2 separate regions of the Homo sapiens genome follow, and region 1 is linked to region 2. The links come from fine-mapping of genetic effects on plasma protein levels. Region 2 holds a variant in brackets. A gene starts in the other region. All regions are shown on one strand. Distances are between the middles of the regions. Region 1 holds the start of EDA2R (ectodysplasin A2 receptor). Region 2 has its middle 220 kb from the start of KLF8.

Evidence for each region. A credible set is the group of variants that fine-mapping cannot tell apart. PIP is the chance, under the fine-mapping model, that this variant and not a neighbour inherited with it causes the effect. The UK Biobank Pharma Proteomics Project read protein levels with antibody pairs (Olink). The fine-mapping took linkage between variants from a reference panel, not from the people measured, so its PIPs are less certain.
Region 1: it holds the start of EDA2R, and the variant in region 2 is the best candidate, but not a certain one, in a credible set for the plasma level of the EDA2R protein (UK Biobank, PIP 0.51).

Annotation. Positions count from the first base shown.
Region 1 is chrX:66,638,600-66,643,964 of GRCh38, reverse strand. It overlaps EDA2R (ectodysplasin A2 receptor), which reads left to right and starts at 4,887. Exons shown (of 7, transcript NM_021783.5): 1 at 4,887-4,970. RefSeq lists an enhancer at 5,067-5,365.
Region 2 is chrX:56,006,229-56,011,604 of GRCh38, reverse strand. It overlaps a transcript of KLF8 not described here. Among named protein-coding and RNA genes, the nearest start is that of KLF8, 220 kb to the left of the region's middle. The variant G/A (reference allele first, on the strand shown) is at 3,156.

The sequences.
Region 1 (5,365 bases), 11 Mb before region 2:
GCATTGATCAAGTGTTGGCTATTATTATTATTTTGGGTGTGGGTTTCAATTCCTTTTTAGCCATCTTATTTTTATTGTGGCACACCTGAGGCCTGGGAGCTCATTATAGAAGGATACATTCAAATGTGAACATTTTTCTCCTTGGGCTTATTCAACAGATATATTGATATATATAATATGTAAAAATGTATTGAGCGCTTAAAATACTCTAGGTACAGTTTTGCATGTGGAAATTTGTGAAATGGTATATAAGGTCCCTGCCACATAGGTTCACACTCCAGTGAGAGAAGTTAGAATCAGGCCAGAGGGACAATGGAGGGTGGGAGGAACTCTGTAAAATCCCTGCACTTGAGGGGCAAGTGGAGAATGAGAATCCATAAAATGCTGTAGAGAAATAAGTGAAACTAGAAGACATTAGTTCCATGAAAGTCAAGGGAAGAGAGTCAGAAAGAAAAGAATCCAGACAATGTTGGATGTTTTAGATAATTCAAATAAGAAAACAGAAGAATCCATGGGTTTGATAGTATGAAAATCATGGGTGACCTTGAGAAGAGCAAAATGTAGTGAGTTTGGAAATGAAGAGGTGGAGGTGAGGATATGAAAAGAATTAATCTTAGTTCAGAATGGAAAGACAATTTAGGAGAAAGAGCCAGAGGAAGAAAGACCATGAAGATACAAATAAAGCAAAATGGAATAGACAGGAGTAAACACAGATGGAGACAGGAGGGACAGGAGGAAACTCTGAGGTAAGAAACAGGATGAACTTGAATGTGGAGATGTCAGAAGTTGTTTAGACTTCAAGTTTCGTGCCCTTTTACATTCTCGGTGAAACTGGAGGTGAAGTCATCTGCTAGGGGTTTGGGAGCTGTGTTGAGCACTTGACTTAAGAAGAGTGAGTTTTAAAAGCCATCTTGGGCAAGTGGAATAGAAGATTATTTAAAATGAGAGATAACACTATTGGACTGTGCTAGAATCTAGCTGAAGTTTGAAAATTCCCATGGCTAGAAGTAACTCTTATACCCCAGCTTTCTAATTCAGAAGACCTAAGCCTGTATACACCACTGCAGCAAACATTTATGGCCAAGTTTATCTACACACATCTCACAGGCTAAAGAGAACAAGAAGCTGATATTGTGTTCAGGGACATCCTTAGCAATGTTTGAGTTTACAGGGGTTGCCCCACAGGCCTCAGCATCCCCTTAGTCTTTCAGCTTCTTTTCCTGCCCCCTGGTCCCAGTCTTGAGAGGAGCTATAAGGGCCCCATTCTGCCTGGATAACCATGAAGCTCCTTCATGAAAGGTGGTCCTGCCATTGTTGGACACTAGAATTAGAGGCTACCCAGGATTCTCTGAGACACAGCCAAGGCCAGTATTCCCCTGAGTGACCCTAAGTAACCTCTGAGAGAGAGCTGAGGGGTGGCATCAGAGAGCCCTGAATCTCACTGAGCCCCAGAATCTGTCTGGTCCCAGAGATAAGCAGAGTGGAGGCTGGTCCTGCCTATCCTGCTGTCAGGTTAGGCTGGTTCCAGCAGTAGAATGTAGGTAGAGAAACTCTGTACTGATAGTTCTCAGTTTGGGTTCACAAAGTGACTCCTGTTTATCATAAAAGGAGGGGCTGTGGAAAGCCCCCAAGAAATTAGCTGATCCAAACTTAGTTCTGCTGCACAAGCACATGGAGCTAGAGTGGCTCCCCCACAGAGAGCAGAGTTGAGAGCCTTAACCCTACTCACCACCACACTGCACCGGGGGTCCTGGGGCTATGTTGAGAAAAAGCTCACCTACCCAGTGGATTTCAAAAGGCCTAGGCAATCCCATTAGCTTGTACTAGCTAGGGTATTCAAGAAAGTCCACTTTGATAAAGTGACATTTAAGCAGGGATATGGAGGAAGTGAGAAAAGGAGCCATGCTGATATCTGGGGGAAGAATTGGCTAGGCTGAAGGAGCAGCAAGTGCAAAGACCAGAGTCTTGAGCATGCTTTGAGTGTTGGAAAAAATATCAAGGCCGCCAGTTGGGGTTGGGTATGGTGGTCAAGGCGAGTGGTAAGAGGTGAGATCAGAGATAGAGGGGCAGGTTAGTGAGGATGGGATGGCGTGGGATAGATTGTAGACTATTATAGACCATAGTTAAGGATTTTGGGTTTTCTGCTGAATAAGAAGCCAACCAGTAGAATTGCTTGGACAGACTTAGACTGATGTACTTTTAAAAGGATCATTCTGGTTGCTCTGCTGAGAATTGACTGGAGTGGGGTAAGCATGAGAGCAAGGAGAGCTATTGGAGGATATGGCAATAATTCAGGTGAAAAGTAATCGTGGCTTGCACCAGAGTGGTTGCAGTGAAGGTGCTAAGAAGTTGGTGAAATTCAGAGTTTATCTCTGAGGCAGGAGGCAGAGCTGATAGGATGTGCTGATGGGTTGAATGTGAGGTGTGAGCAAAAGGAGAGGGGAGGATAATTCTAATGATTGTGGCTTCATAGATTATGAAGATAAAATGAATTAATTCATGAAAAAAATTTGAGCAGTGCCTGGCAAGTGCTTAGTGAGGGCCAGCTAACTGTTATAGTATTATTGGACAAGTTATGGTGGAGGACAGTGGTTTCATATTTGCTGCTTATAATCACTTTCCACAATAGCTTGTGGACTCTGACATATCCCTGGTACCTCTATCTCAAGTTTCCTCCTGTACTTCCAGGCAGAATCACAGAGTACAAGGAGCCTCTTCATCTACAAAATGAGGATGGTAACCTCAACCTCATAGAATGGTTGTAAGGTATAAAGGGACACATATGCATGATTTATAGGTGCTCAGTAAATGTTATTCTTGTCCACCTTCTAAACCTTTGCTACTAAAACTATGGTCTGTGGCCCAGCACCATCAATATCACCTGGAAGCAGTTAGAAAATCAGAGTCTTAGTCCCACACCACAGCTGCTAACTCAGAATCTGTGTTTTAACAAGATCCTTAGGTGATTTGTGTGCACATTAATATGAGAGAAGCACGGCTCTAGCGTTTCAAGGTCATCCAGTCCAACAGTCTCTTCAGGATACAGATGCAGAAAGGAAAACTAAGAGAGAGGAAGAGATTTACATGATGTTACACTTAGTTTTGTCAAGACATCTAAATTCCAAGCTAGGGTTCTTTACACTAAAGTTTCAAAACTGTCTGTAATTCAGCTTCTCTGGGTAGGAAAGGATGGAGAAAAAGAAGAGGTCCTGTTTTCTAGGAAAGGACAGAACAGAATTAGGAGGTACCCAGGGTAGCTATTTTCATTTGAATCTCACAGATGATTTCAGAGGTCCCTAAATTGCATTCATGTATTTATTTATATTTAATAAACACTTCTATACCACTACGTCCCAGAAATCATTCTAAGCTCCTTACGCATATGAACACTATTTTGTATATTAACTCATATAATACCTAAAACAATCCTATGAGTAAGGGATTGTTATTTTCCCCACTTTACAGAAGAGAATCCTGAGCCACAGAGTGGTTAAGTAACTTGCCTTAGGTCACAAAGCTAGTAAGGGGCAGACCTAGGATTCCAATTCTGGCAGTTTTCCCTTCTACTAGGCCTGAGCCCACAGTAGCCTATTCTGGTCTTAACTCTAGCTAGGGGACAGATATGAAGTTCATTTAGGACTTTTTCTACTTCAGCTTAGGGCCTATTCAGCCCTTTCCCACCAAAGGCTTTTCAGCTGCTTTACTGAGACTCCACCCTGAGCTGGCATATAGCCTCTGCCCAGTACAGGAGGGGTCCCTCAGAGACTGATAATGGCTCATTTCTTGGTCCTCTCCCCCATACCTTGGCTCAAGCTTTTCTTTTCCTCTACCCATTAGGCTATTTCCTCTTTGACCTCTTTTAAAAGCTCCTAATCTATTGAAAAGCATTTGCTTTCCTTGTCAGACTCTTTTTTACTCCTTCTTCCTACTGGCCCCCAAACCCTTCCAGTCTGCACCTCATAGTTTGGCCCTTAATTCTCTGTCTCTGTCCGGTCTACTTTATCTTCCCAGCTCTGCAAACTCTTCAAGGTCAGGGACTAGTAACGTTTCGGGATTTATCCACCGCTGCCTCTGAGATCATGGATTAATAAACTCCCAAAGTGTCATTGTTTGAAGTGCCCTTAGAGACTACGTAGCTCAACCCCCTCCTTGTACAGACACTCAGGGGCCCAGAGAAGATGGATGATCAAAGCTGAGTGCCGAATCCAATTTTCCTTTATTTTTAGTGGTCTTTTCCCTGCTTCATGTCTGCTCTCTTCCTCCTGTCACAATCCTATCTACCCTTCTGAATGGAGGAGTATTTTTTTGAGGCAGATGCAGAGCTGGAAAGCGGCTTCTCCATGTGTCTGAAAATTTTGGCTTTTCCAACAATAATTTTCCCTGTCAAACTCCAAGCCTGCTAAGTCATGAATAAACTTTGATGAGCTGAGCTGCATTCAGCTGTGAAAGAGACAACTTGATGCTTTCTCTGGACCCCACTCCCTGGCCCTCTACTCTCTGGCCCCCGCTTCAGTCCCAGGAGATTTGCAGCTCCTGCCATACCAGTGGCTGGGTCACTGTTCTTCAGCCTCACATTGTTCCTCTCAAAGGCAGTTTCTTTTCGTAGCCACGCCTAGGCACTCAAACAGTCCAATAGCTGCTCTAGGAACTTCACGGGGGCGGAAGAGGTAAGCTTACCGTGAAAGGAGGGTTTGGGCTGTTGTTGCTACACGTGGATGTGAAATGAGTCAAGCGGAACTTTGATTACAAGGAATTTCATATACTGTGAGTGTGTATGCAGGCTGGGGGCTGAGGGGCGGGGGCTGAGGGGCGGGGCTGATGGGCGGGTCTGAGGGGCGGGGGCTGAGGGGCGCGGGGTGAAGGGCGGGGGGTGACGGGAGGGGGCTGGGTGAGATGTGTGCTCTGCGCTGAGGTGGATTTGTACCGGAGTCCCATTTGGGAGCAAGAGCCATCTACTCGTCCGTTACCGGGTGAGTGTGGGAACACCCCCTGGTGTGGCAAGGCGGCTGGGACCTGCGGCATCTAGGTGCAGAAGTACAGAATCAGGTCAGGATGATCCTGCTAGGGTACCGCAAAATCAGAACAATTGGGAAGGCGCCCTGTGGCTGGCTGTCAGTCCATCCATTTGTGTCCGGAGAGCGCTTTCTGAGGTATCAGGGATCTGGGCTGACATCTCTAGGATCTTGGCGAGCCATTTCCTGTAGGCTCTTACTGGACCTGCATTGCCTCTGAGAACATGCCTGGACGTGTCCAACAACCTTGAGCATCTAGGGTTGGGAGATAAAGAAGAGAAGGAGGCTGGGTGTTAGTGAAGGCGGGGACAGTGGATCAGACTTGTGGAGCATCCTGAGGAAAGCAGAACTGC
Region 2 (5,376 bases):
TTAGTTATTTCTTGTATTCTGCTAGCTTTGGGATTTGTTTGCTGTTGCTTCTCTAGTTCTTTTAGTTGAGATGTTAGTTTGATAAGTTGAGCTCTTTCTAGCTGTTTGATGTGGGCATTCAGTGTTATAAATTTCCCTCAACATTGCTGCATCCAGAGATTCTAGTACATTCTTTGTTCATATCGGTTTCAAAGAACTTCTTCTTTTCTACCTTAATTTCATTATTTACCCAGGAGGCATTCAGGAGCAGGTTGTTCAATTTCCAAGTAGTTGTGTGGTTTTGAGTGAATTACTCAATCTTGAGTGCTAATTTGATTGTCCTGTGGTCTGAGAGACTGTTTGTTAAGATTTTAGTTCTTGTGTATTTGTGGAGGAGTGTTTTACTTCCAATTATGTGATCAATTTTAGAGTCAGTGCCATGTGGCACTAAAAACAATGCATACTCTGTTGTTTTTGGGTAGAGAGTTCTGTAGATATCCATCAGGTCCACTTGATCCAGAGCTAAGTTCAAGTCCTGAATATCATTGTTAATTTTCTGACTCAATGATCTGTCTAATATTGTCAGTGGCATGTAAAACTCTCCCAGTATTATTGTGTGGGAGTCCAAGTCTCTTTATAGGTCTCCAAGAATTTCTTTCATGAATCTGTGCTCCTGTGTTGGATACACATATATTTAGGATAATTAGCTCTTCTTGTTGAATTGATCCCTTTACCATTATGTAATGCCCTTCTTTCTCTTTCTTGATTTTGTTGTTGTTGTTGTTGTTTAAAGTCTGTTTGGTCATAAACTAAGATTGCAACAGATTGCTTCTATCTGCTTTTCATTTACTTGGTAAATTTTCCTCCATCCCTTTATTTTGAGCCTATGCATGTCTTTGCAAGTGAGATGGGTCTCTTGAATTCAGCACACCATGGGTCTTGACTCTTTATCCACCTTCCCATTCTGTGCCTTTTACTTGGGGGATTTTGCCAATTTCCATTAAAGGTTAATATTGTTATGTGTGAATTTGATCTGGTCATCATGATGCTAGCTGGTTATTTTGCAGACTTGTTGATGTAGTTGCTTCACAGTGTCACTGGTCATTGTATTTCATTGTGTTTTTGTAGTGGCTGGTAATGGCTTTTCCTTTCCATATTTAGTGCTTTCTTCAGGAGCTGTTGCAAGGCAGGCTTAGAGCTGACAAATTCCCTCAGCATTTGCTTGTCTGAAAAGGATTTTAATTCTCCTTTGCTGATGAAGCTTAGTTTGACTGAATATGAAATTTTGGGTTGAAAATTCTTTTATTTAAGAATGTTGAGTATTGGCCCCCAATCTCTTCTGGCTTGTAGGGCTTCTGCTGACAGGTCTGCCTTTAATCTGATGGGCTTCCATTTGTAGGTGACCTGGCCTTTCTCTCTGGCTGCCCTTAACATTTTTTTCGTTCATTTCAGCCTTGGAGAATCTGATGATTATGTGTCTTGGGGTTGATCTTCTCATGGAATATCTTACTGAGGTTCTCCGTGTTTCCTGAATTTGAATGTTGGCCTGTCTTGCTAGGTTGAGGAAGTTCTCCTGGATAATATTCTAAAGTATGTTTTCCAACTTGGCTCCATTCTCTCCATCTCTTTCAGGTACCCCAATCAGTCATAGGTTTGGTTTTTTTACATAATTCAATAGTTCTGGTAAGTTTTGTTCATTCCTTTTCATTATTTTTACTCCAATCTTGTCTGCCTGTTTTATTTCAGCAAGATAGTCTTCAAAATCTGAAATTCTTTCCTCTGGTTGGACTAGTTGGTTATTGATATTTGTGGTTGCATTGTGAAGTTTCTGTGCTGTGTTTTCCAGTTCCATCAGGTCATTTATGTTCTTCTCTAAACTGGTTATTCTGGTTAACAGCTCCTGTAATTTTTTTCATGTTTCTTTGATTCTTGGCATTGGGTTAAAACATGCTTTTTTAGTTCAGCAAAATTCATTATCACTCACCTTCTGAAGCCTACTTCTGTCAATTCATCCATTACAGCCTCTAACCAGTTCTGTGTCCATGCTGGAGTGGTGTTGTGATCATTTGGAGGAGAAAAGTCACTCTGGCTTTTTTGGTTTTCAGTGTTTCTTCATTAATTCTTTCTCATCTTCATGAGTTTATATTTAGCTTTCATCTTTGAGGCTGCTGACCTTTGGATGAGGTTTTTGTGAGGACTTTTTTTTTTGTTGATGATGTTGTTGTTGCTTTCTGTTTCTTTGTTTTTCTTTTAACAGTCAGGCCTCTCTTCCACAGGCCTGCTGAAGTTTGCTAGGGGTCCACTCCAGAACCTATTCACCTGGGTTCCTCCCACACCTGGAGGTGTCATCAGTGGAGGCTGAGGAACAGAAAAGATGGCTGCCTGCTCCTTCCTCTGGGAGCTCCGTCCCAGACTGGCACTGACAGGATACCAGCAGGAACACTCCTGTATAAGATGCCTAGAGACCCCTTTTGGGGTGATCTAGGGGACCACCTAGAGTGGCCTAGTTGGGGAGGCATGGGATCAGGGACCAGCTTAAATAAGCCCTCTGGTTGCCCCTTGGTGCTGGGGGTAATGTTGCTTCTCCGTACTGCCTAGATTCTTCAGAGCCAGCAGGAGGAAAGACTCAGTCGACTAATCCATGGCATCCATGGCTGCCACTCCTTCTAGGGCCTCTGTCCCAGAGAGATCAGACTTCTGTCTGCAAAACCCTGGCTGGAGTTGCTGAAGTTTCTGCAGGGAGAACCAGCCCAGTGAGTTAGGACGGATCAGAGTCTGGCCTAAAGAGGCAGTCTGGCCACGATCTGCCACAGCCACTGTGCTGTGCTGTGGAGAATTCCTCCTGGTTCCAAACTGCCCAGTCTCCCTGGCACCAGCAGGAAAAAATGGCAGACTGGAGCTGCAGTGAGGGTGCTGCCCTTCACCCCAGGAGCTCAGTCATCTCAGGCAGCAGGCAATTGCAGTGATGGCCGTCACCTCTCCTCATGGGAACTCAGTAGTCAGGCAGTCCCCAGCCAAGTGGCCACTGATAATCTGTACAGATGTCTGCTTGGGACACAAGGCCCTGGTGACATGGGCTCATGAGGGGATCTCCTGATCTGTGGGTTGCACAAATCCGTGGAAGGAAAAATGTGGTTTCCCATGTGGGATAGAACAATTGCTCACTGCCTCCCTTC[G/A]TTGCGGGTGGGAGTTCCCCTTGCCCCACGTGGCTCCCGGGTGGGCCATCAGTCCACCCTGCTTTTCCTTATTCTCCATGGGTCATGCTAACTGCCTCGTCAGTCCCAGCAAGAGAACCTGGATACTTCAGTTGCTGGTGCAGAATTCACTTGCTGTTTTCATTCTTCTCAGTGGGAGCCTCCTACCAAAGCTGTTTCTAGAGGGCCATCTTGGCCACCTCCCCCCATTTTTATTTTCACTAATTGAAATTTAGCATTTCTTTTAATTATGCATGTAGGCAAAATGTTACAATTAATTGTATTTGTGTGTGTATATATATATATATATATAGCTTTGCACTAATAAAATTCCAGTTATTTGCATAACATATTAGTTATTAGAGTAATCTCAAAATATTGCTTATGCTCATTAGTAATTTTAGATTATAGTAACTACTAGGCTCACTGAAATATCTTCCTATTGAATGAACTTAATAAAAAAATCACATTTTTTTTCTTCAACTTTTAAGTTCAGGGGTACATCTTCAGGTTTGTTACACAGGTAAACATTTGCCATGGTGGTTTGCTGAACAAATCATCCCATCACCTAGGTATTAAGCCCAGCATCCCTTAGCTAAGAATCACATTATTCTATCACAAACTTTAAAATGATTTGGTAAGTATATTTCCATAAAATGGGTCCCTTTTTTAGTCTAATGCATTGTACTTTATGTATTTGAAAACGTTTTTTTCAAAGATGGTTTACTACAGGCACCCAGCACCCAACTCATCCACGGAGAAGTACAAAAACAGCAAGTAGATAATCACATGTCAAAGACAGAGTTTAAGAGAGAACACTGGAATTTAGCAAAGCAGTGACAGGAAACCTCTAAGGCATGGAAGGAGAGGGACGCAAAGTAGTGCAGAGTCAAAAAGAACTCCCCAGTGTGGAAGAAAAGCAAGCAAGAGATCCCCAGTGGTTCAGGTTCCCACCACAGACTCCTGTAATCCTAGCCATGGAGAAGCCCTCAGCTGTTGCAGGCCCTGAGTATAGGGAGTTACCTAAAGCCTACACCCTGGCATTATTCCAGAGGAGTGTGTGCTGGGTTCCACATACAACTCTGGGACCCAAGCAGCTGCTTCACAGCGCCATTTTGAGAGTACGACTCCCACCAGACTACATCCTGCTCTGGGACCCAACAGACCCTGCATCTCTACATCCCAAAAGCCCTGCAGACATCCTCTCATGCCCACTCAGAGGAATGCAACATTATGACACTGGCTGGACCCATAAATGCAGCCAGATACTCAGAACTCTAGCAGTGCACTGGATAGGCTGCCTCTGGGACATATGGAGCTAAAATATGCAGTAACCAGATCCTGAGAGCCACTTGCCTAGGGCTGCTGCCACTGATGGCATCCCCACTGACCACTAGCAGCAAGGAAGCCATTTGTCTACATGTACATTCATGAATCCTGGGACCAGCTTGCCCAGGCACAGTGAGGGGCCTGAGAACAGGCCCACCCTGCCCACTGACACTGACACCCAAGCACACTATCTGCTATCCGGGGGCCTGGGAAACGACCCAGCCTGCCTGTTGACACTGGTACACATGTGCACAATAGGAAAGCCTAACAACAGGCCCTGTCAACCTGCCACAGTCAACAGACTGAAGAGACAACCTGTAGAATGGAAGAAAATATTTGCAAACTATGAATCCAACAAGTGACTAATATCTGGAATATACTAAGATACCAAAAAAACTCAAGAGCAAAAATACAAATAATCCCATTTAAAAGTGGGCAAATAATCCGAATAAACATTCTTCAAAAGAAGACTCACAAATGTCCAACAGACATATAAAAAATTCTCAACACCAATAATCATTACAGAATTGCAAATCAAAACCACAGTGAGATTCTGGATTCAAGATAGGAGACTAGATGCAGCCAGGAAGTACATCTGCCATCAAGAAACAGACATCAGAAAGATTGGTACACTCTGAGCAGATCTTCAGAGTGAAGCCTTGAGAATGGATGTAGCAAGGACAAAGATGCTAGGATGAAGGGGGAAGATGATAGAAACCATGTACAGAGCTACCATGCACTGGGACTTGTTCCTGGATTGCAGCAACTCCTGGGGAAGGGGTGAGTTAAACAGGTGAGGAGCAACCTACTTTCACCATGGACCTCTGGAATCCTGGCAGCAGGAGACCTCACAACCACTACAGACACTTCAGCT